7 linked regions of the Homo sapiens genome follow. The protein of the gene in region 1 interacts with the protein of each later gene in a biochemical or structural test. Each region holds a gene or a part of one and is shown in the gene's direction. Other genes may lie near its edges.

Region 1 (3,230 bases):
ATTTAAAGCAAGTAGCTATATTGGGAAATATTCTTTGCAATAGTCTCACAAGGCTTACTTGCTTTAGAAAATAGATTATTAAATGAAGTTTGTTATTCTTATTTCATTGATGGAGCTTGAAGCAAATTCATTTGAATCATTTTACATGCAAGGGCACTGGTGTGTTCACAGATGTATTTATTATCAGTTTCTCTATATGACACCAAAACAACTGTGAGTTTAGTGAAACAAATGCAGTCTGATTGTTTTAAGTAATTAAATGATTGAATACAAACGTTCCACCTGCTCTACTCCATATAGATAGAGCCTCTTCTGTATAATTCTGACTGAATAGCTAACAGTAGTCAGTTCATCATACTTATTGTTGCTAATCTACTTAGCTTCCTTGTGCTGAATAGGGGATTGAACCAGATGACTAATAATGGTCCCTTTAATGCTAAAATGGCTGTGATTTTACATTTTTAAAAAACCCACAAAAGAATGAACTTAAGATTTAAGAACTGTTTTCCTTGGTCATAAGAATTTCTCTTAAATAAAAGCATTGGGATGATAAAAATGTAATCAAACCAACAACATAGATTCCTTTCCCAGTCCCAGTTTTGTCAGCTGGTGTTTAAAGGGAGTCAAAGATTGCTAATATTTTTTTTTCCTGTGCAGATCTGAAAACCATGAGTGAACGCCTCAAGAATAGGTACTACGTGTCTAAGAAATTATTCATGGCAGACTTACAGCGAGTCTTTACCAATTGCAAAGAGTACAACCCCCCTGAGAGTGAATACTACAAATGTGCCAATATCCTGGAGAAATTCTTCTTCAGTAAAATTAAGGAAGCTGGATTAATTGACAAGTGATTTTTTTTCCCCTCTGCTTCTTAGAAACTCACCAAGCAGTGTGCCTAAAGCAAGGTGGTTTAGTTTTTTACAAAGAATTGGACATGATGTATTGAAGAGACTTGTAAATGTAATAATTAGCACTTTTGAAAAAACAAAAAACCTCCTTTTAGCTTTTCAGATATGTATTTAAATTGAAGTCATAGGACATTTTTATTTTATGGAATAGATTTTAATCTATTTACTACTATTAAGGTAAATTTTCTATGGCATGTCCATTAGCTATTTCATGATAGATGATTAGGGGTTTCCTCAAAACCTGTGTGTGAGGAAATTGCACACAGTAGCAAAATTTGGGGAAATCCATAACATTTTCAGACCATGAATGAATGTTTCCATTTTTTTCTAATGGAATGTGAGAGTTTACTTTTATTTTATTCTGAAGGACTTTAAGGAAGGGATACATGATTTTAAAAAAGCCTGTAAGAGGTGAAATATGTGATGTTTGAAGTCTCTTTATAGACTTTTTATATATATTTTTTAAAACACTCATCTAGATGAGGTGCTTTGAGCAGTTCTGAAAAATGCAGTTCCAGGAAAGCAACTGCTTTGGTTCCTAAGGAAGAAATTCTAAATAATGCAAACTTTTAAAATAAGCATCTAGGTTTTTGATAATTCTGTCTACTTACAACAAACTTGTTAGTACATAACCACTATTTTAATAATTATTTTCTCTACACAAATGTGTAATATCATATTTGACTTTGCTTATGCAGGCCATAAGTTCCAAAAGATAATTTCCCTGCCCACAAAGGCATAAACTTGAAAACACATGAGATTGAATCAACATGCTTTAATAGGAAAAGATGTATGGTCTATATATGTATCAATCTGGTGAATCCTCGTTCTAATAAAGGTTCTTTTTCTTTTCTATGATACACACAGCCACGCTGATAATATGCAAATGAACATTTTCCTTTATGTCTCTCCAGATAATGTTTATTGTCTGAGGTAAATTAAATTCCCACCAGGGTTTGCTGTCAGTATTTTAACACCCACATTAGTATATGCGTCCAGGGTCATAACCCCCTAAAATCCATCATGCAACCTTATTAATCTGTCTTGGGATTCCAGTTTAGTGCTTGGATTTATTTCCTGATTACACTACATAGAAAAGTGAGACATCTGCCATTCCCAACTCTGGGAAAACCAACTAATATACAACCATATAAATGAAGGCCATCTTGATGGTCTCAACACTAATTTTTATGATGCAAATTTATACACTGATTTTTGTAAAGGACAAAGTTTTAAAAGCGTATTTAACTTGATGTTTTCTATCAGCATAAATAAAATGGTCATGAATAGTCATTAAAAACAGTTGCCAGTGATAATCTGCATGAAGGAAAAAGAACCCTGCAAATGGCTATTGAGTTGGAAGTATTGTTTTTGATATGTAAGAGATATTCAGAATGCTCACACTGAAAATGCCTCAACTTTTTAAAGTGTAAGAAACCACCATGAGTGGTGTCTAGATTTCTAATGAAGAATCATGATACAGTTTGGATTAAGTATCTTGGACTGGTTTTAAACAGTGCTTTGTACCGGATCTGCTGAAGCATCTGTCCAGCTGGTATCCTGTGAAAGTTTGTTATTTTCTGAGTAGACATTCTTATAGAGTATTGTCTTTAAAATCAGATTGTCTCTTCTATATTGAAAGCATTTTTATGTTTTCTAATTTAAAAATTAATATTTTCTTATAGATATTGTGCAATAAAGCTGAAGTAGAATGTGTGGTTTTTGCAAATGCTTTAACAGCTGATAAAAATTTTACATTTGTAAAATTAATATATTGTACTGGTACAAAATAGTTTTAAATTATATTTTAAAAAGCTTCCAATCTTGTGGTGTGTTTTATTCATTCAGTAGGCTGAGGTTAACAGAACAAATTATGATCTGGTTGATAACCATCAATTGAATCCTTAAACCTTAGATCTTAAGCATTCTGTTGCATTTGGGGGAGGTTTCATAAAAAATCCATAGGTCATCAGTAAGAGATTTTCAGGAGAGACACTTACTCTGTCTTTTGAGTTATCCACTGCATCTTACCCACTCACCCGCTAAACAATAACAAAAAAGATTCATTGAAAGAAGAGTGTTGTTGGTTTAGAAATTAAAAGATTTTTGTTTTTATACTTTGCATCTGTGAAATATATATGATGAGAGAAAAATACAGCCGATTTTTAAACATCTCCCATATGAGCTTCTAATGTGATTCAAAATGATGTCTGTAGGAAAGAATACTATATCCTTTTGGGGTTTGAGAGGACCCAACCAAGAGAACCCCTCTTCCCTACTGAAATCTAAACCAACTGAGAAGTTAAAAAAAAAAAAAAAAGG
Region 2 (3,962 bases), on another chromosome or scaffold:
ACCAGATCTTCTCAAACATGGCAGCACTCTATAAACCCTCCTTAGGAATATGACTTGAAAATGAAGGAAGTCCATCAAGAACTAAATAAAAATAAAAATTCAGGGATAGATAAGTTACAGTGAATATCAAATTCATTTAAAGATAGAATTAAGACAACATCTGGAAAAATAAAGTTGCAGAGCAATTGCAAATGTTCTCATTGCTAGGAAGCCGAAAGTAACAGAACTAATGGAAATTGAGAGGCAGGGTTACCCCCTAAAGGTAGGTGGAGGTGTATGATGCTAATTAACCTCATCTTTCAGAGCTATGAGACTTTCTAAACCCGAACATGTAGTGAGCTCCTTACACCTCTCTTAATCTTTTTACGTAATGCTTATAGGCCTTTTAAAAAGCACGTCTTTTAGGGAAGAAAGCAATAGAGATTCCCTTCAGTTTATTTTTCTTAAATTCCAGTAACATGAAAAATTTGAAATTATATGAAGCAGACGTAGTGTGATACCGTAATTAGAAAATTACTTCTGTCTACCCTTTCTGCGTCTTCGTTTCTTCAGCTGTGAGACGGGTATTTCTCCCAGTGTTGCTGTGAGGATTACACGTATTTACCTGCAAAGTGCTTAGGACAGTGCCTGGCTCACGGTCAGTGCTCACGTTTGGGCAGCTGCACTTGGGCGCTGCTGGCACAGGAGGTAAGTTAGTTTGGCCTATTGCAGCGTCCCAGCATCTGTCGCGTTTCTCATGTGTGATTGGGCTCTGGCGGCCCATCCTGGCGGAGACTTCGGCTAGCAGGCCCCGCTGCAGACCCCAGGCCGGCTCGGGTCTACCTGCGCCAGCGCTGTACCTGGGCGACCTTGGCTTTGCCCCCACCGGTGACCCGGCCCGCAGGACGTGTGGGTGCCGCTCAGCTCCCCCCGCCTCGGCCGCCGACCCCCAGCTCCCCGGCGGGGCCTCCTCCTGCCACGTGACGCCCCCGCCAGGGGCCCCAGCGCCCTCCTCGCGGCCGCGCCGTTCCGGCTCCCGAGCCCCGCCTGCGCGCGGCCTCCTCGGCGCAGCCATCCTCTTGGCTGCCGCGGGCGGCAAAGCCCACGGCATCTGCCATTTGTCATTCAGCCCGTCGGTACCGCCCCGAGCCTTGATTTAGACACGGCTGGGGCGTGCTCTGGCCTCACTCTCCGGGCGGGTGCTGGACGGACGGACGGACGGGGCAGCCGTGCTCACAGCTCAGCAGCGCGGGGCCTTGGCGCGCGGGGCGCTTCCCCGGGTCGCCGTCATGGCCGCGGAGGTGGCACGCCCGAGCGGCCTCGCCTGAGCTCCGGGGGTCGTCGCCCCGCAGGGTAGGTGTTTGGGTGCTCGCGGCTGCGGCGGGCGGGCTGGGGGCAGCGGTGGCCGTGCATTGCCGCGCTGCGAGGACGGCGCTGGGTTCGCGGCCGCGAGGAGGGTGTGCCTTTGCCGCGCCGCCTACGTGCGGGTCCGGGCTCCGCGGGGCCGGGTGCGGGACCCCGCAGATCGTCACCCGCAACCCAGGCAGCCCCACCGCGAGTGCCGCCGGACCCCCTGGACGCCGCTGCCAGAGGCGTTCGCGCCTATCTGGTATGAGGTCCACAGACCCGATTCTTACAACCTGGCGCTCTAACCTCGCCAACGGGCCAGGAAAAAAACAGAACAAGGAAAAGAAGAAAAAGTCTGTTCCAAGTAATAATGGGACTAGACAGTAACTGTTTGCACTTTCGTCTCTTATGGAAAATATGATTATTTTGATGCTTTAGTATTACAGACTGTATCAGACATACTCTTAAAAGTATTTAAAAACGTGGGGTCCTAAAAATTTCCTAGATCGGGACAGCTGATAATGCGACTTCTGTTAGTCTCCGCATCCAACTTTCAGGGCGGAATGGGGATTTCTACCTTTTACTGAATATACTCCTGTAATTTTGAATATTTTTTCTCATCAAATGTGTTACTTTCATGTTTTAGGAAACCAATAAAAATCAAAAATAGAAACACCCAGCTTAGGTCCTCCTTCTTCCAGGAATCCTCCTCTAACCCCTCCCTCCCAGGCAGGATCGGAGGCCCCTCCCGGGTGCTTTCTGGGGCCTCACTGAGGTCCTGGTCCCCTAAGTCCTCCCCCGCAGCCCCTCCGCGTATTAACCCACCGGTCTCGCTGGGCTCAGAGATTGCTTACTTAGCACATGGTAAGTGATTAATACTGTTTAATGACCGAGGGAAAAGATAAAATGTTCTCTGATGTTTCACGCTTTTCGCTCTGAAGTTAAATAGTGGTAAATTTATATGCGCTTAGATAAGAACATTTAACAGTTAAGGATCTGGAAAAGTTGACGACGTCCGATGTCCGTGTTTCCTGATCCAGCAGTTGCACGCCTGGGTATTCATCCTTAAGAACAATGTTTTTCAGAATTTGAAGTCCATTTTAGTGGGTCGTAAAGTCATTTAAATGGATGATCAGAATTTGTAAAACACAGACGGAGAATAGAACATCAGTGTCTCTCAGGTCATAGGGGTGTTCGCTTTATGAATCTCTCTCCCCCTCCTCAGTTTCATACATACACAAATGTGTGTCATGATGTAAAACGTCATTCCTTAGTATGAGTCATGGACAAAAAAGTTTGAAAGCCACTGCCCTAGATAAATTTTAATACATGTCCACAAGCAGACGTGTACAAGAAGGTTGACTGTAATGGCAGAAAACTGGATGCCGCCTTCATGCCTACCTGAAGGAGAAAGATAAATTATACACCACTCATAAAAAGGGCACACTGTACAGTGGCCAATGAAGTATTTTTGTGTTTCAACACAAATGCCTTTCAGTGTTGAACCAAAAAAAAAAAAAGTTGCCGGAGAATGCTGTGTGATATCTTCTATGTAAAATTCAGAACCTGGTGGAGCAAAGCTGTTGTTTAGGGATGCATGTATAGGCATTAAAAGTAGTAAAGAAAAAAAGTCAAGCTAATGGTCATCTCCTAGTGGGGAGGAGAGGGTCAGGGGCTCAGAGATGCTGGAAATGCTTTATCGCCTGACCTGTGCAATGGTTACATGGGTGTTTGCTTTGTAACTCTTTGTTAAATGATACACACTGGGTTTGAATGTTACATTTCCCCCCAAATATGTTAAAATATGGGTGTTGCAAACTGAAGAAGCCTGAGTCTAGGGCTCTCCGTCTGTTATTCTTATTTCCTGGCTTCTTTTTAGAAAAAAAAAATCTTGCTCAGGGAGGAGTACCTAGGGAATTTATCAGTAATGTTTTATTTCATAAATTCCATGGTGGACATACCAGTATTCATTAAATTATTCTTTATGTATTCTTATAACTTAATTTATAATATTTCAAAAAGCATTTAGGAGAAAACATCATTTGGTGTGTTTGCTTTCCCAAAAGTCACATTTACATGTTTTGTACACAACTGGAATATTTTATATAGTAATTTTAGCTAAAATCAAATTTTGTTATGAAAAACGAAATACTAAAAAGTATATAAAAATCACAGAACTTTACAGACTTTCAGCGTTTTAAAATGCTAACATATTGTATTTACCTCAATAATTTCTGTTCCTCAGTTCTTTCAGGCCACATTTTTAGTGCTCAATAGCCTCATATGACTTTAATATTTTATTATATTTTATTATGTTATATATTTTACATTATACATTATAGAACAGAATATTTCCATCATTGCAGAAATTTATATTGGAAAACATTCTGGATACAAATATTTGTTATATACTTGCAGATATTAAACTGTAGACATTAATCCTTATGCTTTTTGTCTTAAGATACTCTACTATTAATGAAATGTATTCTGAATATTTTTCTAAGAATTTTTAAGTTTATGTTTTGTCCACATTTTGTTCTTTAATTTACCTGAGACATGTATATATTGAGATGTATATATTTTATGTTATGAGATCAAGCTTAATTAATTTTCAGATTCCCACATGAAAAGGTAAT
Region 3 (3,500 bases), on another chromosome or scaffold:
ATTATCTAGTTCAAGGGTCTGTGAGAAGCTCTCTTTGAGCCTTAAGTACTACAGGATGTTGGGAAAAGATGTTGTGTTCTTTCTTTCCTTTTTTTTTTGAGACAGAGTCTCGCTCTGTCGTCCAGGTTGGAGTGCAGTGGTGCGATCTCGGCTCATTGCAAGCTCCACCTCCCGGCTTTAAGTGATTCTTCTGCCTCAGCCTCCTGAGTAGCTGGGAATACAAGTGTGTGCCACCACACCTGGCTAATTTTTTGTATCTTTAGTAAAGACGGGGTTTCACCGTGTTAGCCAGGATGGTCTCGATCTCCTGACCTCGTGACCTGCCCGCCTCGGCCTCCCAAAGTGCTGGGATTACAGGCATGAGCCACTGCACCCAGCCCGTCGTGTTCTTTCTTGTCGTCATTCTGTTCTGAAGTTGTTTCATTTTATAAGCCTTAAGTTTTGAACAGGGCAGTACTCACTGACACCCTCTTAACAGACTCAGAAAGATGTGTTAATTCATTTTTTAGGGGGAGAGGGGAGATATTTGTGTTCCAGCAGCTTATTTAGGTCACATACCTCCTGATAGGTCTTCCCATTCTTTGAAATCATGACATTGAAACCTCCAAAAGAACTAGATACCACTTTGCTAATGAGTTGAAAGGAGGCTTTGGTCCATCTGGTGCTCAGCACTGTACTTCTCAGCATTTAAACGTGCCTTACAGCCCATTGCCAAACAGTGATGTCATATAATGAGGCTCCCCTTGCTGGGCAGATGGAGCACAGTGTTACTATCACAAGCTCGTGCCCAGCATATTAACTGAGCAGGAACATGCCAGAAATATAAATATTAACAGCTCTGTTTTGTCAGCCACTGACTTTGTTTCACTGCTATTCCCAAAACATGAATTAAAACTTAAATTACCCCTTGATGTTAGTGTATGTATTTATCTGTCAAGATTTTTTTTTTTTAAGAGATGGCATCTCACTCTGTCACCCAGGTTAGAGTACAGTGGCACAGTCACGGTTCATGATAACCTCGAACTCTTGTGTTTAAGTGATCCTTCCTCTTCCCTATCCCAAGTAGCTGAGACAACAGGCACATAATGCCATGCCCAGCTAATAAGATCTTTGAGGAATTTGTTCTTGCCCCTGACCTTATTGGTTATAAGAACATGGTCCTTTTTACCCTAAGGGTAACAGAGACTTGTCGTATAATCTGTGTTCAATTATAAAATCAACAGCTGATAAGGTTTCTTTTTCTAAGAAGAGAAGACCATCAGAAGAATATATATATATATAATCCAGGCATTCACCTAGTACTGTAAAGTGTAAACTTATGAACTTGAATTGACACATGAATATTTACTTTGTTTCTGTATCCCCTTGAAGCCCATATTTCTCCAGTGGATTACTCTGGAATTCAAGCTGTAGGACGGGTGTTTTACAGCCTCCAATATACACAGCAGTAGATCTCTATAGGAAGCTGTCCTCTTCACTACTCACCCCCACACCCTCCACATTTAAGGAGTAATTTGCAAAGTCTCAAAAGCCTTTTTCACCACAGTGATAACTGGTTATATGGCAGTATTTATTCTCCCAAGTGCCACCATGCTGAAACACAAAAATACTCATTTGAAATATAGAGTTAGACAAATTACCATTTTGTAACCCCTTATGAAATAATTGCTTTTGGGAAGGAAACCCAGTGAATGCAGAAAGCCATAAGTGAAAAGAATGGATATTTACTTGGTACCAAAATATCCCGCAGATTACTTGCTTTGGTCAAAGGGGAAACATCTTAACCCAGTGATCAATTTTAGCTCATTAGTAGTGGGACAGATGGCCTTAATGCACTGTCACGTGCACAGCATCACCTGTATTTTTGCTGAAAATGTTTAACCTGATTCTTACCAAAATTTTTGACCTAACTTCCGGTTTTTGGGAAGTACAGGGGATAGTGGAAAGCAGGGTATAGACACATGACAGCAAAAGAAGCAAAATCAGACACATCCCGAGAAACGGTCATTCTCAGGACAATCAGAGGGTCTCTTTAGATCAAAATCAGGAAAGAACAGGGCTTAGAAGTAAGAAGATTATTCTAGACTAAGAGAGACTAAAGAAAACCAGTCAGTTGCAGTGCATGGCCCCTAATTGAATCCTGGTTTCAACAAACTAGTTCTAAAAGACAACGTTGGAATAATTGGAGAAATCTTAACATGAACTGGATTTTAGATGATATTTAGAAATTATTTGTCAGAGATAATAACAGTATTATGATTATATAGGAAGATGTCTTCGTGTTGAAATATTTGGGGAGGGTAAAGTGTCATGTCTATAATTTTATTTTAAAACAGTTCAGAAAAAAATACATATAAATACAGAAATATAAAAATGTTAATTGTTGAATATGCTAGGCATATGAGTGTTCACTTTATCATAGTTTTTACTTTTCTGTTTCTGTATATTTGAAATTTTTCATAGTGAAATTTTTAAAAATAAAATTCCCTTTGATTTTAATACCATGTCTCACCCTCATCACCATGTAAAACCCCCAGTTTATTCACTGTTTGAAGATCTGTTGATGAATATTTGATGTTAGTAAATAAACAGCTTAGGGGGACAAAAAAAAAACAGCCCTGCCTACCTATTGTAGGTTACTTCAGCTGTAGGCTTTGTTTTATACAGTTTGACTACACTGGTAGCAGTTTGACATTGACGGTCCACAAAAGCCTGTTCAAACAGAATCCCAGTCATTTAAAAAAATTCTTCTTTAGTAACATATTCTTTAAAAATACAAAATACAGGAGGAGGGTGAGGGTTGAGAGATAACCTATCGGGTACAATGTTCACTATTTGGTTAATGGGCACGCTAGAAGCCCAGTCCCCATCAGTCCGTGGTGAGACCCATGTAACAAATGTGCACATGTACCCCCAAATCAAAAATAAAATAAAAAAATTTTAAAACATAGAAAATACAGATACACACACACACACACACACACATACACACATAAAGGAGAAGAGGGCTAATATATCCTAGAGTAGGTATTTTGGAGGAGAGTTCTTTGTTTGGATATGAAGGGTCAAAACTATGTTTGCTCAATAAGGCATACTTTTTTGTAACATGTTAAAAACTCTTTTCCTTCCTGTCTATGGTACTGATAGCTGTCGACTTGCTGGAGAAGATGCTTGTATTGGACTCAGATAAGAGAATTACAGCGGCCCAAGCCCTTGCACATGCCTACTTTGCTCAGTACCACGATCCTGATGATGAACCAGTGGCCGATCCTTATGATCAGTCCTTTGAAAGCAGGGACCTCCTTATAGATGAGTGGAAAAGTAAGTCCTAAGGGTAGGATTAACATCTTGAACCACTAACCAAAAGCGGTGGGAAAAATAAAAACTGAATGGTCATAACCAACTTGCTAAAGCTTGTAGATGAGGTCTCTAATGCAGAATGAATATGTTCTCTGGTGGAAACTGTTGTAGACAGTGATACTCTCTGGACCTTTGAGATA
Region 4 (3,963 bases), on another chromosome or scaffold:
GTGATCCGCCTGGCTCGGCCTCCCAAAGTGCTGGGATTACAGGTGTGAGCCACCGTGACCAGCCAGGTTTTCGGGTTTTATCTGTTTGAGACTTGGTCTCACTCTGCCGCCCAGCCTGGAGCGCAGTGGTGCAATCTTGGCTCACTGCAACCTCTATCGCCCGAGTTCAAGCGATTCTCCTGCCTCAACCTCCCGAGTATCTGGGAGTACAGGTGCGCGCCACCACACCCGTCTAATTTTTTGTATTTATAGTAGAGGCAGAGTTTCATCATGTTGGCCAGGCTGGTCTCCAACTTCTGACCTCAAGTGATCCACCCACCTCGGCCTCCGAAAGTGTTGAGATTACAGGTGTGAGCCACCGCCTCCGGCCTGTTTGTTTTTTTGAGACAGGATCTCACTGTGTCACCCAGCCTGGAGTGCAGTGGCACCATCATAGCTCACTGTAACCTTGAACTCCTGGCCTCAAGTGATCCTCCCAACTTGGCTTCCCAAAGTGCTACGATTACAGGCGTGAGGCATCGTGTCCGGCCTCAACAACGTTTTTTGAAGTGTCTATTCTGTACCAGGTGCCTAAATGTGCTTAAATTAAGAAGGGAGTAAACGCCAACAAAATCCCATATTTACAGGTCTATCACTGACCCCCAAAACCCTATTTAAGGCGGGAACCTGGCAACATAGCCTGGCAGTGAGCTGGCCACTCAGTAAATGCTCCGATTTGCAGGGTCCTCGAGCCAGAGGCACTTTGAGGAGACCCTGATGCAGCCGCCTCCCTTTCTGGAGTGAACCGAAAGCAACGCGACCTGCCTTTCATCACGCAGCCGGCCTGGCAGTACCCGTCTCCAACAGGGCTGGGGATTGCATTTACATTCACACCTGCATACACTTCCGACCCTGCTCCATCCAAACTCAAAACACCGTAGAACCAAAACGGGCTCCCAGAAAGCCTTGCTGGGAAGACCGAGGGTCCTGCGGAAAGGATTCTGCAGGCTGAAGGCTAGGCGCCTCGCCACTCTAGGACTACAATTCCCGAGAGGCCTTGCGACGGAAGCCATCTTTGTTCCCCACCAGGCTAAGCGATTTTCCGGAGGGGGAGTAAGATCCCTTGCGTCACCGGCGCGCGCAGCTGCCGTCGCGGAGAGATGATGTTTAGGTCCGGGACTGTCAGTCAGTGCGCGGCCAGGTACGGGCCGACGGGCCCGCGGGGCCGGCGCCGCCATGGCGGCCGTGTTTGATTTGGATTTGGAGACGGAGGAAGGCAGCGAGGGCGAGGGCGAGCCAGAGCTCAGCCCCGCGGTGAGTGCCCTGCCCTGGCGCGACTGGATCCTGGAGCCGATCCTGTCACCCAGCCGAGGCCGGAGCGGCGGCTCCGCACGCCCAGAGCGGGCTCCGACTCTTTGCAGACCCAGATCCTTCTCAGATCCCGGTCTCTATTAAGTTCTGATCCCACCCTCACCCCGACCTCTCTTCCAGAACCCCAGCCTTTTCTCCCGATTCTCCCTTTCCTGCCTTCGGTTTCTTCCCAATTCTTACCCATCCCCTACTAGCTGCCATCCCTGACACCCTTCTCTCCTGGGCCACGCAGTCCAACCTGAACGGGAGCGGGGAGGTATCCTGGCACCTTCCTTGGCTCTTACCCCTCGGTTTCTCACAGGACGCATGTCCCCTTGCCGAGTTGAGGGCAGCTGGCCTAGAGTGAGTGAGGGTCGTGTTGGGGGAGGGGGGAATGGAGTGGGGAAGGGGAACTGGGGAGCACTGGAGCCTTGTCCTCATTAACTCCTTGTGTCCGTAGGCCTGTGGGACACTATGAAGAGGTGGAGCTGACTGAGACCAGCGTGAACGTTGGCCCAGAGCGCATCGGGCCCCACTGCTTTGAGCTGCTGCGTGTGCTGGGCAAGGGGGGCTATGGCAAGGTAGGGGCGGGCGCACCCTCCTCCTGGCCTCACAGCCTCCATCTGGAGGCAGCAAAGGGTTCTCAAAACAAATTAGACTTGTGAATCAGCAGGGCCTCTAATGGGATTCAGAGCCAGAAACATAAAGGAGGGAAGGCCAAATCCTCTCCAATCGGACTTGAAATCTTCACTGCCCCACCCTTGGCAGGGCCTAGGCCTCCTGATCCCAAAGCCAGAGCTTCAGGGTGGGGCTTCTTGAAGATAGGATGTGGAGAGGGAAGTTGATCCTGTCTCCCCTGCCCTACAGGTGTTCCAGGTGCGAAAGGTGCAAGGCACCAACTTGGGCAAAATATATGCCATGAAAGTCCTAAGGAAGGTGAGTCACTCGTTCAGCCAACGAATACTGTGTGGCTGCCATTCCCAACATGCTGTACCAGGCTTTGGGAAGACAGCAGGGAACACAGTGGAGGAGGATCCCTGACTTTGGCGTTTGCTGGTTTATTGTCTGTTGTGATGTGTATTGTCTTGCAGTAATTCTCAATGGGGGCAATTTTGACTCCCAGCAGACATTTGACAACAGTGTCTGGACACTATTTTATTTTATTTTTTTTTAAGACGGAGTCTTGCTCTGTCACCCAGGCTGGAGTGCAGTGACGCGATTTTGGCTCACTGCCACCTCTGTCTCCCAGGTTCAAGCGATTCTCGTGCCTTAGACTCCGGAGTAGCTGGGATTACAGGCGCTTGCCACCACACCCAGCTAATTTTTGTACTTTTTTGTAGAGGTGGGGTTTCGCCTGGCTGGTCTCTAACTCCTAATCTCAGGTGATCTGCCCGCCTTGGCCTCCAACGTGCTGGGAGCTGGGATTACAGGCATGAGCCACCGTCCCTAGCTTTTTTTTTTTTTTGGATGGAGTCTTGCTTTGTTCCCCAGACTGGAGTGCAGTAGTGCACTCTCTGCTCACTGCAACCTCTGCCTCCCGGGTTCAGGTAATTCTCTTACCTCAGCCTCCTGAGTAGTTGGGACTACAGGCTTGTGCCACCACACCTGGCTAATCTTTGTATTTCTATTTGTTTACCTACTTATTTTGAGACGGAGTCTCACTCTGTCACTCAGGCTGGAGTGCAGTGGTGCGATCTCGGCTCACTGGCAACCTCCACCTCCCAGGGTGAAGTGATTCTCCTGCCTCAGCCTCCTGAGTAGCTGGGATTACAGGCGTGAACCACCACTCCTGGCTAATTTTTTTTTTTTGTATTTTTAGTAGAGATGGGTTTTTGTCATGTTGGTCAGGCTGGTCTTGAACTCCTGACCTCAGGCTATCCGCTCACCTTGGCCTCCCAAAGTGCTGGGATTACAGCCATGAACCACCGTGCCTGGCCTAGTTTTTGTACTTTTTAGTGGAGGCAGGGTTTCACCATGTTGGTCAGGCTGGTCTCGAACTCCTGACCTCAGGTGATTCGCCTGCCTCAACCTCCCAAAGTGCTGGGATTACAGGTGTGATCCACTGCGCCTGGCATGGACACATTTTTGATTGTCAAGGCAAGAGGGGAGTGTTACTGGCACCCGGTGGGTGGAGACCAGGGATGCTGCTGAACATCCCACGATGCGCAGGGCAGCCTCCCACAACAAAGAATGACCTGGTCCCAGGTGTCAGTAGTGCCGAGGTTGAGAAACCCTGTGTTAGAGGATAAACCCATCCCTGAAAATGATGGTGGCTGACAGCAGCAGAATTATGGAGAAATACAATGCAGTGACAGAGGATGCAGCAGTTAACAAACAGATGGATGGTCTGAGGAGCTCTGGTTGCCCCCATTTTTTTTTTTTTTTTTTTTTTGAGATAGTGTCTCGCTCTGTCACCCAGGCTGGAGTGCAGTGGCGTGATCTCAGCTCACTGCAACCTCTGCCCCTGGGTTCAAGCGATTCTCCTGCCTCAGCCTCCTGAGCTGGGATTACAGGCGTGTACCATCATACCCAGCTAATTTTTCTATTTTTAGTAGAGATGGGGTTTCACCATGTTGGCCAGGCTGGTCTCAAATTCCTGACCTCAGGTAATCCGCCTGCCTTGGCCTCCTAGAG
Region 5 (3,500 bases), on another chromosome or scaffold:
GCAAGAAAGAGCGGAGTTGACAAAGAATGGCTGCAGATGAGAAGCAGGTGTGTGAGGTTCCTTCTGATGATGGATTCTAAGTATTTTTATCCCAAAGGCAAGACTAATTTAGTTCAGCAAAATACCTTAATTTAGGATTTTGTGTGATAAAAGCCTGTCCTGTTTTCATTAAATGACGATTTTTGAGAATTAACTACTTGCTGTGTGATTTTCATAAATAATTTCATTTGGGCATACTTAACACTGTTGCTATCTGCTGAAGGCATTTGATACTCGCACACCTAATGCCATCAAAGGAGAGATGAGTATACACTTTAATTTGTTCTTATTGAGTGTACATTTTAATTGTTCTTATGAATGTCAGATTTTGGGAAGATCCAAAGAAGTACTCTGTAGACAGAATACGCTGTCCTGGCCCCCTAAGCTTAGAATCCTACCAATTTTCCCATTTCATGAGATTGACCTTTCAGATGAGGAGGGACTGCATACAAATTGCTTTATTTCAAGTAATATCTACCATGTTATTTTTGAAAGAATTCTTTTGTCCTTTTTACCCTAGATCTATTGGAAAAGATGAGAAAAATTACAGTGGTGATAAGAGTGTCTTAACACCTAGATATGATGGGTGTGTCGGGTGAAAGGATAGCAATGGGAGGCTGGTGGAAAGTGAGAGTTGGGGGATGGGGTGATGAGAAGGAAAATAGGTGACTAGTGACTCCTGGATTCTTGAATGGGAGAGAGTGAAGAGACAATCAGGCAGGGAGATTTTCTGTCTTTGCATAAATGTCACTGAAAGAGTTTTAGAGATCGGAGGGGTGAGGTGAAGTTGGTTAGGCAATTAGTGATAACTCAAGGACCAGTTGAAAGACTGGAGGACCCTCCACTGCTGACTGTGGGATCAGATCCTTTTATCCTGGGGATGAGAAAGGCTGATGGGAAAACTGCTAGGCAGCTGCTGACATTATACCACCAGGAAACATGAAGTTGTGAGTAGTTGTCACTTGGACATGGCTGAAGTCACCTTAGGGTACAGTGATGTTGCTGCATCACAACGTTTAGGTCATCAATGGGCCATACACATGACTGTGGCCCCATAAGATGATAATATCATACTTTTACCTTTTGCTATGTTTAGATACACAGATACTTGCCATTGTGCTACAGTGGCCTACGGTCCTCAGTACAGTAACCTGCAGTACATGTTTGCAGCCTGGAAGCCATAGGCCATACCATAAACCTGGGTGTGTAGGAGGTTATACCATGTAGGTTTGTGTAAGTACACTCTGTGATGTTCACACAATGACAAAATTGCTTAATGGTGCATTTCTCAGAATGTATAAGTGTGCTGATGTTGATGCATTGTTTGGGGATGGGGAAACTGATACTCACTATGTGAGGCCCCAAACTCAATCTAAAATTGCCTTTGGAGGCAACCACGGAAATACGGTAATAGCTCTCTTAGGCCTTCTCCCCCCGTACTGATCTTCCTTGGTACTGTTTTATTTTATTTTTAAACTCTTGAAATAATACATAATAGATGTATGTATTTTCAGGGCACATGTAATAATTTAATGCATTCATATTTGTAATTTGTAATGATAAATCAATGTAATTGTGCTATTGAGATTGTGGGAGGTAAATATGGAATCAGGGAAATAGAATGGGCTGATAATGTGTTTTCCTAAAGAACAGATGGGATTGGCCGTGCGCGGTGGCTCACGCCTGTAATCCCAGCACTTTGGGAGGCCGAGGCGGGCGGATTTCCTGAGGTCAGGAGTTCAAGATCAGCCTGGCCAACATGGTGAAACCCCGTCTCTACTAAAAATACAAAAATTAGCTGGGCATGGTGGCGGGCACCTGTAGTCCCAGCTACTCGGGAGGCTGAGGCAGGAGAATCGCTTGAACCCAGGCGGCGGAGGTTGCAGTGAGCCGAGATCGCACCAGCTTGGGTGACAAGCGTGAGACTTCATCTCAAAAAAAAAACAAAAAACAAAAAACAACCAGATGGGACAAGTTAAAACTGAACTATGAATTCCATAAGTGGGTAGTGTGGGTCACTGAGTGGGGCACTGAGTACTCCACAGTGACTGTAGTCAGGATTCTACATTGAAATAAACTTTCTGGAATTTACCTTGGTGCTATATACTTAAAGTCTTAAAAATGTTAAGCTCTCTGTTCCAGAAATTCTGCTTCTTGGAACCTACTTACGTGAAGTAACCAGAGATGGGAACAAAGATGTATGTACACGGATGTTTATTGAATTAGCTTTTGTTATGTAAAAACTTGGAAACAAGCTAAATATCCAACAATAGAGACACATTTGAACGAATTACGGCACATCCAGACAGACTATAGGTAGCTTATAAAGCTCGTGTTTTCGAGCAGCGTTTAGTGATGGGAAAATATTTATGATCTATGCTGATTGGGTGGGGAAAAAAGGATATGAAATTGTGCTTCTAGTTTTATTTTTAAAACATATGTGTATATTGGGGTATTTTTAAAAACCTGGAAGAAAACATATCTTTTTGATGGTGAAATTGTGGGTGTTTGGCTTTTTTTTTCCTTCTTGAAACATTTTTGTATTTTCCAAATTTAAAACAGCAAGCACAATTACCAATTACCCTTTTAACCAGAAAAATATTCTCAAGAGAGTGCTAATATGTCATCTCTGCCCTCACCTCTGGTCCACGTAAGGTTAGGAAAAACACACTGGGTGCTGCCGAGGAGGAGGCTGTGCATGGACGGGGCCATTCTCGAGCCTTTCTGCCTCCATGTGTGGAGCAGGCTCTAGAGCCAGGGCTTTCCTGGCCAGGCTCTTGGAAGCCTTTGTCCTCAGACAGCTGTGGCTACTTGGAGACACTTAGATTGGTGGCTTTTTGGTGAGGTTGGGACATAATGTTTTGTCAGTAACTGTGAAGGGCTTGAGATATGATTTCACTTCACAGTTAACATTCTTTATACATATGAATACTGCAGAAACACAAAACCCCTGGGTAGGAGAAAAGAGTTCCTTGTTGATATTTACAACTGGGGCAACAGCCTGAGTGACACTATTGTGTCAGGCCCCTAAACCTTGACCCTTAGGTGACACTGAAAACTAATGGAATGTACATGTGGGCTACACTTTGTTGACAGGGACAGAGCAGCTGTCCCTCTCCCGTCCCAAAAGGAGAGAGAGAGAAAAAAAAAAGAAGAAGAAAAAGGAAAACCAAACAGACAAACACCTTAGCTCCCCTGACATGGGATGAAAAGGTTCCAGGGGTCTTATCCTAACCTTTCAGAATGTGAGACACTTGTAACCTGGGGATGTCTCCAAGGTCTGTTTTTCATGCTTTTTGAAATACACATGCCTAGGGAGATACGTCTTCCCAGCACCTTGGGAACCAAGGTGAAATTATTTGGTCCTCTTGAGGAGATTAGAGGTTTTATTATCCTTTTGGAAAAGAGCATTTAATGTACACAAATGGCTACAGATCTAATTCTCATGGTAAGTGAAGTAT
Region 6 (3,500 bases), on another chromosome or scaffold:
GCAGTTGCCCTTGCGTGCTGTACTCAGACTTGGAGGAAGTGATGTCTTATTCAAGGCCAGTTTTTGTACTAGTGGTTAAATAAATGGTTTCCAAATTGGAGTCAGAAGGAGAGCTTCTAAAATGTAGGTTCCCTGGCCTCAATTGTGAGATTCTGCTTTAGCAGGTCTGGAATTGGAGCACTGGGATCTGCATTTTCAGAAAACCCAAAATGATTATCAGCCAGGACTTAAACCTCTGCTTTAGACCACATTCCCTGTGGGCTTTCAGATTTTCTATCAATGTTCTTCCCTCTTCCCAGCTCCCACACATTAAAACTCAGATCATGCAGAAAAGAAGTTACAGTTCCTTCATTTCACATCAATTTCTCATGCATCCCATCTGGTTTTGGGAAGGTGTGGGACGAGGTGGATGGCCTTAAACTTGCCAATCAAAGATAACGTTCTCTTTCGATTCAAATAGCCTATCTCAGGCTTAAAACCATCTCTTTGGATAAATGCTCAGCTTTTCAAAGGTTCTTCCTAGCTTCTTCCTCATGATGGCATCTAGTGGGTGAGAACAGTCATCTCCAGGTGACACAGGAAAGAGTTTCTCTAATGTATGTGCTGAGGTCCTTGACGGTCCTGCTGCTGGTGCTCATCCTGCCATCTTTGCTGGATGTCACTGAGTCTACTGGGTAATGTAAGTGGGTCCCTGGCTTTTGTTCACTGCTGTCATGCCCTGCTCCTGACCACAACTCTGTCATTGCCTTTGGTCTCAAGGTCTCTACCTTAATAGCTTCCATGTCCCAACTATGGGACTGTTAATCTGCTGGGCTTTGGAGTGGGTGGGAAGGGATGATGTTGGAACTTTGGGATGTACTGAACATCTTGCTCAAGCTTTGGGAAGCCAACATTTTCTCAGACTGACTAGACACCTCCTTCCACCAATGCTGAGCTAGTGCTCCTGTGCCATACTGGGTAAGCCTCTAAGTCATGAGTAGGACTTTTTTGAGTGGCTTGCAGTCTTCCCCAGGCTATGCCAGGAAAGTAGTTGACTAACCCTGCTGCTCCAAGACTCGCATACCCATCCTGAAGTTTCCGTTTATTTCCCAACAGGGCAATTGCAATCTCAATCAATCTCTCCCTGCCCTGGGAGTCATTCCACTCCTGCCTAATGAAGAGACTCTTCTCACATCGTATTCTCAGTTTCTCTTATCCATGGTTAGGAGTAAAACTCATGTTCAGTTGTCCAAGCTTTGCTTTTAGTATGTGAATGGAGCTCTTAGCATGTAGAACTCCCTTCTCATTCTCAGTAAAGTCTGACTTTGAAGACTACTTATCATCTTCCTAGAGATGCCAAAGAATAATCAAGATAATAAAGGCAGGCTCTGAGATTCACAGCTGAGTAGCAACTGTGCTGTTACTCTAGTACACACCCTCTCCTTTCCTGTGACTGTCAGGCTTCAGGGCTTACCTTTATTGGAAAGACAGCAGGGGGGCATATATGAAGAAAATGGAATCTTTAATATTGTCAAAGTCTTGACCCAATAGAGACATTCTTGCCCCAGACTCTCTTGCTTCAGTGCCTTTGCCTGTTCTGGTCCTAAGTACCTTGAATATCCTTCTCTTGATGCCCTGATATAAAACTCTTTATTCCTCAAAGCCAAGTTCAGGTTATCACCTCCACCACAGACTTTTCTTTCCCTCCCCAAACTTCATTGCCTCTTCTCATCACTCCCTTTGTAATTTGTTTATACTGGTAAGAGAGCATTCATCATAATTAGGCCTATCTATGCCTACCTTTCTTGTTAAATTATGAGCTTTGTTCTGCCTTGGATATCTCTCTGGCTTGGATATCTCTCTGGCCTTTGCTCTGCACTTCCAAATGTATCCATTATTCAAGACCCAGGTTTCCAGCCTGATCAACATAGCAAGATCCCATCTCTCCAAAAAAAAAAAAAAAAAAAAATTGTGGGGCCGGGTACAGTGGCTCATGCCTGTAATCCCAGCACTTTGGGAGGCCGAGGCAGGTGGATCATGAGGTCACGAGTTTGAGACCAGTCTGGCCAACATAGTGAAACCCCATCTGTACTAAAAATGCAGAAAATTAGCCGGGTGTGGTGGTGTGTGCCTGTAATCCCAGCTACTCGGGAGGCTGAGGCAGGAGAATCGCATGAACCCGGGAGGCAGAGGTTGCAGTGAGCCGAGATTGCGCCACTGCACTCCAGCCTGGGTGACATTGCAAGACTCCATCTCAAAAAAAAAAAAAAAAAAAATTAGCTGGGCATGGTGGCAGGCACCTGTAGTCCCAGCTACTTGAGAGGCTGAGGTGGGAGGATTGCTTGAGCCCAGGAAGTCGAGGCTTCATGAGCCATGTTTGTGCTACTGCACTCTAGCCTGGATGACAAAGTGAGATCCTTTTCTAAAAATAAGGACCCAGTTTATTTTATTTAGTTATTTAGTTATTTTTGAGACCAAGTTTCATCACTCAGGCTGGAGTGCAATGGCACAGTCTTGACTCACTGCAACCTCTGCCTCCTGGATTCAAGCAATTCTTCTGCCTCAGCCTCTTGAGTAGCTGGGATTGCAGGTGCCCGCCACCACACCTGGCTAATTTTTGTATTTTTGGTAGAGACAGGGTTTCACTATGTTGGCCAGGCTGGTCTCAAACTCCTGACCTCAGGTGATCCACCTGCCTTGGTCTCCCAAACTGCTGGGATTACAGGTGTGAGTCACCCTGCCTGGCCAGAACCCAGTTTAAATTCCATCCTCTCTGCAGAGTCTTCCTTAACCACCCCTATTGAAAGTTACCCCTGCTTCCTACAAGAAGTGGTACTTGGATGTTCATGAGATACCTGTGCAAGGCTCCTGTGGGGGTCCTGGGGAGACAGTGACATGGACACTCATGAAAGGAACCTTGGAATAGCGAGTGTGTGTGCTATAAAATGTGCTTTAGATTTGATTACCACCACTTAAGTTATGAGCTCTGATATGGTTTGGGTCTCCATCCCCACCCAAATCTCATCTTGAATTGTAATCCCTACATGTTGAGGGAAGGAAGTAATTGTATTATGGGGGTGGTTCTCCCATGCTGTTCTCATGATAGTGAATTCTCACAGGATCTGATGGTTTTATAAATGGTAGTTTTTCCTGTACTTTCACACACTCACACTCTCTTCTGCCACCTTGTGAAGAAGGTGCCTGCTTCCCCTTCTGCCATAATTGTAAGTTTCCTGAGGCCTCCCCAGCTGTATTAGTCTGATCTCACGCGGCTAATAAAGAGATACCGGAGACTGGGTAATTTATAAAAGAGGTTTAATTGACTCACAGTTTTACATGGCTGGGGAGGCCTCACAATTATGGCAGAAGGTGAAGGGGGAGCAAGACACATCTTACATGGCATCAGGCGAGAGAGCTTGTGTAGGGGAACTCCCCTTTATAAAACCATCAGATCTCGTGAGACTTATTCACTATTACAAGAGCAGCACGGGAAAGACCCACCCCCATGATTCAGTTACCTC
Region 7 (3,500 bases), on another chromosome or scaffold:
GAAAAAAAAGAAGGAAAAATTTTAAAGTTATGAGGTCAAGTGATGTGTTAATGTTAGTCAACCCAATTTTCTAACCCCTTAGGTTAGAACCTGCAAATGAAGAACACAATGTGGAAACAGCTGAAGATTCCGAAATAAGATACTTATCTGCAGATTCAGGAGATGCCGATGATTCAGATGCGGATTTGGGTTCTGCCGTGAAACAGCTTCAGGAGTTCATTCCTAACATCAAGGACAGGGCCACCAGCACAATCAAGCGGATGTACCGGGACGACTTGGAACGGTTTAAGGAATTTAAAGCACAAGGTGAGCTTGTGGGGCCTTAGTGTTTGTTGAACTTCCTGTATGCAGAGCTAGCACCTAACTTTCTTTTATGGATGATTCAGATTTATAGATCGACAAGAAGCATTCTTTCTCCTCCTTCACCTCTATCTCCTACCAGAATTGTCCAAGCTGTAAAATTAGCAAAATAAAGTGCACTTGCTTTTCCTCTTCTTGCCCAGTTTCTGGTAAAGGTGGCCAGGAAGAATGGGGCTAAAGAGACCAGATAATTAATTCCCACTAAGAAGAGAAGGGACGAGAGGTTAATTGGTTGAGACACTGGAAATGATACAACAGTTATATAAAATTAAAATGCTGTCAAATTAAAATCAACTTTAATGAGGTATCGTTTCTTTCTCCAAGATATTAAATTGATGGTGAGCCAGTTGTGGTAGACTTGATCACCTTCTTGATTTCACTGTGTTTCTGAACCTCTCTTATTAAGAATTATTATTATTAAGAATAATAAATAACCTTTATTATTCTTAAATCCAATAATAAAGCTTATTGGGTTTAAGAATAAACTGCAAATTTAAGGCTGTATACTACAAATGAGCAATATTTACTGAGTATCTGTTGTGTGAGACCCAATACAACTGGTCATTGAAAAAAGTAAAAAGAGGAGTCATAACCTTCCAGAATTAATGGGATTGAAGAGATTCAGAAAAATAGACAAGACAAATTAAGCAAAAAAGACAGCACTACCCACGTACACACAATTATAGAGTGGTATAGAATCCCATTTTGGTGTATTGTGTTGAAATTTTTATGAGTATGTATTTCATAAAAGACTTTTTTTTTTTTCTTTTTTTTTTTTTTTTGAGACAGAGTCTTGCTCTGTAGCCCAGGCTGGAGTGCAGTGGCATGATCTCGGCTCACTGCAACCTACGCCTCCTGGGTTCAAGTGGTTCTCCCACCTCAGCCTCCCAAGTAGCTGGGACTACAGGCGCCTGCCACCAAGCCCAGCTAATTTTTGTATTTTTAGTTGAGATGGGGTTTCACCATATTATTGACCAGGCTGGTCTCAAACTCCTGACCTCATGATTCGCCTGTCTCGGCCTCCCAAAGTGCTGGGATAACATGCATAAGCCACTGTGCCTTGCCCATAAGATATTTTTAAAGTAAACCTAGGCCAAGTGAGGTGGCTCACACCTGTAATCCCAGCACTTTGGGAGGCCAAGGCAAGAGAATTGCTTGAGGCCTGGAGTTTAAGACCAGTCTGGGCAAAACAGCAAGACCCCGTCTTACAAAAAATAAAAAATTAGCCAGGTGTCACACACACCTGTAGTCCCAGCTACTCGGGAGGCTGAGGCAGGAGAATCACTTGAGCCCAGGAGTTCAAGGTTGCAGTGGACTTTGATCATGCCACTGCACTCCAGCCTGGGTGAAAAAGCAAGACCCTATCTCTAAAGAATGCATAAATAAATTTGAAAACTATTTTTTAAAAAGATAGATTAAACAGGAAAGGTCACTTTGGAATAGGATGACCCGGGAAGACATTGACAGAAGAGGTGTGGCTTGGGCTGAACCCTGAAGGAAAGGCCAAATCTGCAAGTGCGGGCAGGAGGGCGAATGTCAGGTGTTGGGACTGTTGGGCCGAGGTACTGTCATTGCTGATGAAAAACCAAGTCATAGGTTTGCTTTTGTCATTATTAACAATACACACTTTCTCCCTGTTCCTTCCCAATTCTAGGTGTCGCTATTAAATTTGGCAAGTTTTCTGTAAAGGAAAATAAGCAGTTAGAGAAAAATGTGGAAGACTTTCTAGCCCTGACAGGCATTGAGAGTGCAGACAAGCTGCTGTACACGGACAGATATCCTGAGGAAAAATCTGTGATCACCAACTTAAAAAGGAGATACTCGTTTAGATTACACATTGGTAAGTTTAGAAACAATCACCCTTTGACCATCCACAGCCTTCCAGCCATAAACAAGATAACCCATGGTAAGTGTTAGCACGGTACCTGGCCCATTGCCTGCAGGCGGCGCACATTAACTGCTGTGATGGCTGATGATATTCTTTTTTTTTTTTTTGAGACGGAGTCTTGTTCTGTTGCCCAGGCTGGAGTGCAGTGGTGCAATCTTGGCTCACTGCAACCTCCACCTCTGGGGTTCAAGTGATTTTCCTGCCTCAGCCTCCTGAGTAGCTGGGACTACAGGTGCCCACCACCACGCCCAGCTAATTTTTTGTATTTTTAGTAGAGACGGGGTTTCACCTTGTTAGCCAGGATGGTCTCGAACTCCTGACCTCGTGATCCGCCTGCCTCGGCCTCCCAAAGTGCTGGGATTACAGGCGTGAGCCACCGCGCCCAGCCCTGATGGTATTCTTATTGCCAGTCTGTACTTTCTGGGATTTGGAATGTGTTCATGTCTCCCAAGTTTAGGGTGAAAAATTAAATGATCAACTTTTACCTTTCTTCCTTGGCAATAGTTGTGGTTTTGGTTTCTCCTCCTGTTCCTTATTTATATTTTGTGTACGCTACACAAAGCACATCCTTATACGCACCATGGTCTCCCGTGTTTTTTAAGTGTGGCCATATGTGTGCTTTGTAACTGGAACCCTCCGACTGGAGGTGCTGCCTGTGAAGTTAGAAGGTCATGCTGTCATATGGGATCAGAGCGAAAGCAAATCTCTCTTGAATTTAAAGAGGATAATTTCTTAGGTGTTGTGTGGAATCCACGAAGAAAAGCAGGCTAGTACGCCCCCGTTGAGGGATTATTTCCCCTTAGAGTGAGAAAGTGAGAAAAGCTGATTTGGGAAAGATTATTGTTCATCTTCTGGAAAACTGTTACCCTGTATTCTCCACCGCAGTGTTCTCTTCCTCTTAATTCACATTATCTTAAAACTACTTTGCCTCTTAAGGATTCTTTCCACAAATTGCATAGACCGGAAGCTGAAGCCTCAGGGTACTAAGCATTTAGTTTTCGGAGATCTCCAAGGAAACTGGTGATTGTGTGTATCTGCTCTTCAAGACAGCTTTCTTAGGCCGGGCGCGGTGGCTCATGCCTGTAATCCCAGCACTCTGGGAGGCCGAGGAGGGCGGATCACCTGAGGTCAGGAGTTCAAGACCAGCCTGGCCACCAAATGAACCTGGCCAGCTGGTTCATTTGGTGAAGCAGCCTTCACCAAATGAAACAGCCTGGTTTCATTTAGTGAAACCCCGTCCCTACTAAAAATA

What was found.
Region 2: the proteins of KAT2B (region 1) and PLAGL1 form a complex in vitro, tested with the Homo sapiens proteins (one study listed by BioGRID).
Region 3: the proteins of KAT2B (region 1) and MAPK14 form a complex in vitro, tested with the Homo sapiens proteins (one study listed by BioGRID).
Region 4: of the proteins of KAT2B (region 1) and RPS6KB2, one has a biochemical effect on the other in vitro, tested with the Homo sapiens proteins (one study listed by BioGRID).
Region 5: the proteins of KAT2B (region 1) and IRF2 form a complex in vitro, tested with the Homo sapiens proteins (2 studies listed by BioGRID, with this or other methods).
Region 6: the proteins of KAT2B (region 1) and SMAD2 form a complex in vitro, tested with the Homo sapiens proteins (one study listed by BioGRID).
Region 7: the proteins of KAT2B (region 1) and TTF1 form a complex in vitro, tested with the Homo sapiens proteins (one study listed by BioGRID).

What each region holds. Positions count from the first base shown.
Region 1 is NC_000003.12:20,151,675-20,154,904, forward strand, and holds the end of KAT2B (histone acetyltransferase KAT2B), read left to right. Parts: intron 1-657; coding exon 658-851; 3' UTR 852-2,730; downstream 2,731-3,230. UniProt on the Homo sapiens protein: Functions as a histone acetyltransferase (HAT) to promote transcriptional activation. Has significant histone acetyltransferase activity with core histones (H3 and H4), and also with nucleosome core particles.
Region 2 is NC_000006.12:144,005,460-144,009,421, reverse strand, and holds the start of PLAGL1 (zinc finger protein PLAGL1), read left to right. Parts: upstream 1-1,162; 5' UTR 1,163-1,332; exon of another isoform or gene 1,333-3,962.
Region 3 is NC_000006.12:36,104,308-36,107,807, forward strand, and holds part of MAPK14 (mitogen-activated protein kinase 14), read left to right. Parts: intron 1-3,147; coding exon 3,148-3,321; intron 3,322-3,500. UniProt on the Homo sapiens protein: Serine/threonine kinase which acts as an essential component of the MAP kinase signal transduction pathway.
Region 4 is NC_000011.10:67,427,331-67,431,293, forward strand, and holds the start of RPS6KB2 (ribosomal protein S6 kinase beta-2), read left to right. Parts: upstream 1-1,163; 5' UTR 1,164-1,215; coding exon 1,216-1,293; intron 1,294-1,651; coding exon 1,652-1,692; intron 1,693-1,789; coding exon 1,790-1,910; intron 1,911-2,196; coding exon 2,197-2,265; intron 2,266-3,963. UniProt on the Homo sapiens protein: Phosphorylates specifically ribosomal protein S6. Seems to act downstream of mTOR signaling in response to growth factors and nutrients to promote cell proliferation, cell growth and cell cycle progression in an alternative pathway regulated by MEAK7.
Region 5 is NC_000004.12:184,464,551-184,468,050, reverse strand, and holds part of IRF2 (interferon regulatory factor 2), read left to right. Parts: intron 1-3,500. UniProt on the Homo sapiens protein: Specifically binds to the upstream regulatory region of type I IFN and IFN-inducible MHC class I genes (the interferon consensus sequence (ICS)) and represses those genes. Also acts as an activator for several genes including H4 and IL7.
Region 6 is NC_000018.10:47,812,160-47,815,659, reverse strand, and holds part of SMAD2 (mothers against decapentaplegic homolog 2), read left to right. Parts: 3' UTR 1-3,500. UniProt on the Homo sapiens protein: Receptor-regulated SMAD (R-SMAD) that is an intracellular signal transducer and transcriptional modulator activated by TGF-beta (transforming growth factor) and activin type 1 receptor kinases.
Region 7 is NC_000009.12:132,396,841-132,400,340, reverse strand, and holds part of TTF1 (transcription termination factor 1), read left to right. Parts: intron 1-82; coding exon 83-306; intron 307-2,014; coding exon 2,015-2,200; intron 2,201-3,500. UniProt on the Homo sapiens protein: Multifunctional nucleolar protein that terminates ribosomal gene transcription, mediates replication fork arrest and regulates RNA polymerase I transcription on chromatin.